2 linked regions of the Homo sapiens genome follow. The protein of the gene in region 2 purifies or fractionates together with the protein of the main gene of each other region. This does not show direct contact. Each region holds a gene or a part of one and is shown on either strand. Other genes may lie near its edges.

The links. Proteins that work in one complex are often made in the same cells at the same time.
Region 1: the proteins of NR1H4 (region 2) and ARID5B purify together in Homo sapiens (pull-down; one study listed by IntAct). This does not show direct contact.

Annotation. Positions count from the first base shown.
Region 1 is NC_000010.11:62,086,699-62,090,198, reverse strand, and holds part of ARID5B (AT-rich interactive domain-containing protein 5B), read right to left. Parts: intron 1-3,500. UniProt on the Homo sapiens protein: Transcription coactivator that binds to the 5'-AATA[CT]-3' core sequence and plays a key role in adipogenesis and liver development.
Region 2 is NC_000012.12:100,476,866-100,480,365, reverse strand, and holds part of NR1H4 (bile acid receptor), read right to left. Parts: intron 1-3,500. UniProt on the Homo sapiens protein: Ligand-activated transcription factor. Receptor for bile acids (BAs) such as chenodeoxycholic acid (CDCA), lithocholic acid, deoxycholic acid (DCA) and allocholic acid (ACA).

The DNA.
Region 1 (3,500 bases), on a different chromosome or scaffold from region 2:
GCAGCAAACTACATTTCTATTAAAGCCCAAAATGAAGTTGTCAAAATTCAGACAGTCAGTGCCACCGCAAATATAGCTTTGCTGTTGAATGAAATAAATTATAGTCAATGAGACAGACACACTCCTTATGTGACCCTACTGACAGAAGTTGTGGGTACCAATTCGACTCATTTACTGCATTATGCAGCCATATAAACTTTGACCTTAGGAGGTCATTTTAACTTTCCATCTATGACCCAGCTGACTGACAAGCCCTTTCAAAACTGCTGTCATTCTGCCCTGACATGTCTTAGCAGAGCAGTCACAAAACAGTTGTACTGAGCTGGTATTCTTCCCCTCCTTTTTCCATCTCATCCCTTGAACTTTGTTCTTCTCTGTTAAGAAAAGATGTGCCTGTAATCTCAGCACTTAGGGAGGCCGAGGCAGGCAGATCACCTGAGGTCAGGAGTTCAAGACCAGCCTGGTCAACATGGCAAAACCTCATCTCTAGTAAAAAAACAAAAATTAGCCAGGTGTGGTGGTGGGTGCCTGTAATCCCAGCTACTCAGGAGGCTGAGGCAGGAGAATCGCTTGAACCCCAGAGGTGGAGGATGCGGTGAGCCGAGATCATGCCATTGCACTATAGCTTGGGCAACAAGAGTGTAACTTTCACAAAAAAAAAAAAAAAAAAGAAAAAGAAGGAAGGAGGGAGGGAAGGAAGGAAGGAAGAAAGGAAGGAAGGAAGGCAGGCAGGCAGGAAGGAAGGAAGGGTGGGTCTGCCAATTAGCATCTTTGGGTAAGATTGAGGATGCTGGTTTAGGAATACGTGGGAACAAAAGTTTTAAGAAATCACACCTATTTCACAGGTATTTTTCCTTAAATCCCTTTAAAAAAAAAACCCTGAATTTTAGGGACATGTTATACCTAAGAGACTTTGCTTATCATCATTATTTCTTTTTATTTTTTGTACTAGTAGCTGCCTTTTCCAGTACAAATATCATTACTTCTTCTACATTAATAATCATCACATTGGTCTCTTGAGCTTATACATGACACAAAAATAAAGACAAATGAGTATGGCAAGGGAAAAAGGCAAATTGCATCTAATTGTTAGTTTCTTATGGGGCTATAGTTTGACGCAGGGCAATGAGGGATACTCAGTCTCATTGAAGTTTCTATGATGTAGAACTGCAGTTATATCAGAGTCCCATGCTTCGGGTTGTAAAACAGGTTTAGGAAGTCTTTGAAAGCTAGGCAGAAAAAAGTAAAGGACTTTTTTTCTAGTAAGACATTTTATGATCTGCTTAGTATGTTAAATGTTAGCTTCCCACCATGCAACTTGCAATCCCATTACTTGAATATAGTGGATTCAACTAGAGGGAATTTCTCACCCTTTGTATCTCCATTGAGTTCACCGCTTCATATTGAAAACACCAAAAACTAAAAGCGATGAAAACAATAAAATCCAAACCAAAAACCCCAAATAGAGTTAATGAGAAAAAATACACCTGGCTAATAACATGGTTCTATGTTGGAGGTGAGAAGTGATTCGTATTATAAGGTCAACCTTGGAGAGGGTGGAAGATTCCATGAGGTTTAGATAACCTCATCATGACAACTTTCAAAACCTGAGACACTTACAGCTCCCTGAAGGGAACAGTTGCAGCCTACAGGAAACACAAAGCCTAACAGCTTTCAGGGTTTCTATGGACTCCAGGGAGTAAGGCTCCACTCTTGGGCATGGTCATCATCCAAGCTGACAGGCTCAGTGCATAGGCTAAAGATTCCTCCTACCATTCACAAACCAACCATTTCAAACTTAATCCCCAAATTGGAGATATTCAACGGTCAGCTGTCCCCTTGGTCCTCAGTTTGTCCCCTGGTGTTTTGTGTACATATGGCAGCTAATAGAACACACTCATCTGAAACCCTATAATAAATCACCAGGCCAAAAGTATCAAGGAAAAATGGAATGTAAGCATGCACTTGGAATTTCCTTGCTTTTGGCCATTTATGTTGCAAGCTTGCAGATGTTGAGAAATCTGCATCATCTGGCCAGGGACGGTGGCTCACACCTGTAATCTCAGCACGTTGGGAGGCCAAGGCAGGAGGATCATTTGAGGTCAGGAGTTCAAGACCAGCCTGACCAACATGGTGAAACCCTGTCTCTACTAAAGATACAAAAATATTAACCGGGTGTGGTGGTGCATGCCTGTAGTCCTAGCTACTCGGGAGGCTGAGGCAGGAGAATTGCTTGAACCTGGGAGGCGGAGGTTGCAATGAACCGAGATTGCACCACTGCACTCTAGCCTGGGAGACAGAGAGAGACTCTGTCTCAAAAAAAAAAAAAATCTGCATCATCTTCTTCCTCCTCCCCCTTTTTAGTTACTAGAGCTTAAAATAATTATGAAACCTAATAAAAACAAAAAACCCACAAATTTCTAATCTTGGTATCAATACTATTTTCTTATGTAAGAGTCAGCTGGGTAAGTTGATGTCTAGATGGGAGGTTGGTGCGTGTTGTACATGTGCAATTTAAACCAGTGTTTAATTATGGAGCCTCTTATGTGTTCATTATAAACCTGATTTTTTAGGGGGTATTTAATATCAGCATCAAAATTCCCTCTGGGGTTGAATCCTAGAACATGCTGTCTCCAAATGTGGCTGCTCAGTTTTTTTTTTTTTTTAATGGGCAGCAGCGTTTTTTATTATTCATGTTGAAATGGAGCCCAGATCAGCCTACATGACTGGCTACATGCTGGGGGTAATGGCTTCTACCAAAAGGCTGTTGGGGGCTTAAAAAGTGCAGAAACTACCTGTTAATATGAAAAATAATAATGGTTTCATAGGAACCATTTCAAAATTCCCCTATAAATAATATGCACTTAAGATCTTTTTTCCTTTTTTTTTTTTTTTTTTTTGAGATAGAGTCTCTCTCTGTCACCCAGGCTGGAGTGCAGTGGCCTGATCTCGGCTCACTGCAAGCTCCGCCTCCTGGGTTCACGCCATTCTCCTGCCTCAGCCTCCTGAGTAGCTGGGACTACAGGTGCCCACCACCACGCCTGGCTAATTTTTTGTATTTTTAGTAGAGACGGGGTTTTACCGTATTAGCCAGGATGCTCTCGATCTCCTGACCTCGTGATCCACCGCCTCGGCCTCCCAAAATGCTGGGATTACAGGCGTGAGCCACCGCGCCCGGCCACACTTAAGATTTTCTTAAATTGGTCTCAACCCATGGCTGTTGCACAGAAATCAATTATGGGAGACAAACACTTCTCTAAAGTTTTCAGGAGAGTCTTGCAGGATACAGCACCACAGTTCCAAGGTCCCCTTTCCTGGACCTCCAAAGCATTTTTTTTGAGACACGGCTTCACTCTGTCACCCAGGCAGGAGTGCAGTGGTATAATCACAGCTCACTGCAGACTTTACCTCCCAGGGCTCTGGTTATCCTCCCACCTCAGCCTCTTGAGTAGCTGGGACCACAGCGGGGCACCACCATGCCTGATATTTTTTTTTTTTTT
Region 2 (3,500 bases):
TTAAAAACGGCATCTCAACATCAATTTCCCATTCATTCACTCATTTATTTTGTCAGTGCACATTTATTGACAGACACTAGACATAGTAAAAAATAATGATTTTTCAGAAAGCTTAGTGGAAAAGTCAGGCAAGAAAAACCCAATGGTAGTAGTGTGAGGATTGCTACAACAGAGCTAAGCACAGGTGCCATCAGGAGCACAAGCAGGGACATTCATTCATCCAATATTCATTAATTCTCTACTACATACCAAGTTTCGGTCTAGGTTTTAGAAATACAGTGGTAAGACAAAGAGCTTACATTCTAGAGGGATAAGTGAATAATACACAAGTCAACAAATAATAGGATTTCTGATGAGGATAATAAGAAAGTAAAAGAGAAGTATAGAGTGTTGTAGTTGAACACAGTTTTGGAGAGGGCAATCAGAGAAGAGCTCTCTGAAAAGTGGACATTCGAACTGAGATGTGAAGGACAAGAATGAGTAAGTCATACAAAGGGAAAATAAGTTCAGGCAGAGTGATCAGCAAAAGCAAAGGGCCTGGGCTTGGAGTGTTGGAAGAACAACACAAGCCCAGTGAGGCTGGAAATGAGTGAGCCAAGGAGGGGCTATAGGAAATGAGGTCTGAGAGTAGGCAGCTCTTGTATGGCCTGTTGGCCATGGTAAGGAGTTTGGATTTTCTTCTAAATGGAAGTAATTGATGAGTTTTAAACAAGGGTATAGTGAGGAGAATGAGGGAAATCTTTCTGAGCGTGGAGGGTTGATTCTTGAACTTAGTCTTGAAGGAATAGGCATTAGGCTAGGAAAATGACACGCAACAGGGATGGCTATAGGAAGGGAAAATAGCATGCTGTGTTCTGAGCAACCCTAAATAGTTGTCTATGCTGTAGCTAGTGGACTCAGCTCAAATCAGTGGAAGAAGGATGACCTATTCAAGAAATTGTGGCAAGAAAATTGCCTATGCTTTGAGGGTAAAAATAAAGACATCTTTATGAATCATTCTTGGAAAATACATCTCAGATGGATTAAAGACTGAAAATTATAAAATTATTGGGAGAAAATATATTTATGATCTTTATGGATTTGGGGATTGAGAAGGACTTTATTAAATAAGAAGTAAATAGGAAAAGAATACATTTGAGAACGTTGAAATGTAAGACAGAGGTTAAGGCATCACAAACAAAGCTAAATATATAAAAATGGATAAAAATATTTACAACATAAATAACACCAAAAATATTAGTACAAACAATATATAAACGATTCCTATAAATAAAAACAGAAAGGATAAACAACCCAAGAGAGAAATTGGCAAAGGATACAAAAAGGAAATTCACCAAAGTGGAAACACAAGTGGCCAGTAAACACAGAAAATATCTGAAACTAATAATAATTAGGAAAATGGATATTACTATAACTAAATACCATTTTCACCTATGAGATTATCAAAAAATTTTAACTTTGATAATATTCAAAGTGTATGAAAATATGCATTCTCACATATTGCTAGTGGGGGCATAGGTTTTAGTCTTTTTGGAGGGCTCTTTAGCAGTGTATCTTAAAATAAAGTGCAATTTTAATTCCTAGGTATCTTTCCTGGAGAAATCTTTGCTGGTATGCACCAGGATGTTCATTGTAGCATTGCCTCTAATGCAGAAAGAGGGCAAACCACCTAAAAAACCATCAACAGTGGAATGGCTAAATGAACTGTGCTCTATAGTATCAACTATTAGGAAGTGGTTAAACAAGATTAAAGTGTTTTGATATGTATTAACATTGAAACAGTGAAGTAGAGGAGAATAGGGCTAGGGGAAGGTCAAAAAATATTTTAGACTTATTCATAATGTTGAAACTTTTAACACAATGACTACATTAAGATATGTCAGTCTCCTAGGGTATCATTTCCTGTCCTCAACTTTGCCAATTATATAATCAGATGCTATAAGCAGGTATATTTAGATTCTCCAGAAAAGAAGGGTTTGCTTCATTTTCTTAAAACAATTTTAGGATTGTGCAGCATTTTTGAGCTTCAACAAAAATTATAAACCTCTCTCTAGGAAAGACATACACAAAATACAGATATTTTTCTAAATTAATAAATGTTTAGGAGAAATTTTATGTTCACTATAAAATTGAACAAAATGTATGGAGAGCCTCCATATACGTCTTCTCCCCCACCCCCCACACACATGCACAGCCTCCTTTACTTTCAACAACCAGCACCAGAGTGGCACATTTTTTTACAATCGATGAACCTATGCTGACACATCTTTATCAGCGAAGGACTATAGTTTACATTAGGGCTCAATCTTGGTGTTGTGTATTCTATGGGTCTTGACAAGTGTATAATAACATGTACCCACCATTGGTAATATCATATAGAATGAATTCACTGCCCTAAAAATTCTCTGTAAAATGCATAGATTTTTAAATGTAGTCTTAAGTGACCCTGGCCCCCTGAAGCCCAGCTATAGCCTCAGATTCAGAGTCGGGACTCCAGGAGAGCAAGAATCTTTTACATGACCACTTTGGAATGACATTTCTTTGTCCTGTCTCTGCCCTGCAAATTCTGGATGGCAACCAGCTTTTGCTCCTTAAGCCCCAGGCTGGTATCAACTTGTCGTCTACACTGGCAGCTTCCATAACTCTCTAGGACATGGCAGCAAATAGCTCTCTGCTTAGGAACAGTCACAGCCCAGAGCAGTGTTTTTGTTTTCTCTAATCAGCAACATCCCACAGCAGGACTATCTTCTCCATGCACAACTACATTATTTACCATGTTTTCCAGATAACTGTGTTAAATATATCTACAGGACTTGAAAATGCAAAGCCATACCATTTCTCCTTTTCTTTACATTAATAACATTAATTAAAGTGTAATAGACCCAGGTTGTCTCAGGTTCATTGAGACCTGGGAAAGGTCATCTAAATCTCTTTAAAATGGGAAGCAAAATCTCAAAGTTTTGTTAGGATTTTATATTAAAAAATGAAAATTAATAAAAATTTATTTTATATTTATACTTATTTATTTTAATCACCAGAACCCTGTTATATTTCTTAATCCTAACAAAGAATAAATCTTATTTTTTTTCCTGTGCAATATTTGCAATTTTACTTTGCAATCAAGTTGCATTATATTAGTGTCATCTTATCACCAATTTACAAAGCAGAGAGAGTAGGAATAGTAGATGTTCTTTTATGGCCAAAATTGGAAATGGGCAAACTGAGGGAGAAAATAATTCACTGTGAAGAGCAAAGGGGTTAGGGGATTCCAGAGCAGGGTGAGAGAAGGGAGAGAAAAGACAGAAGGATGAATATTTGTATGTAATAATGATTTTTGCCTCCTCATACAGCTTGGTGACTAAGGACACTCGTATGGTGATGCCTTTTAGCTACATCTTCACTGGTAGAAACTACTGTGACAATAAAAAAATACCTGGGAGGAAAATTGTTCCTATTTCTTATTTTTTAAAAAAAATTTTGAGGTGGTGTCTCTCTATGTT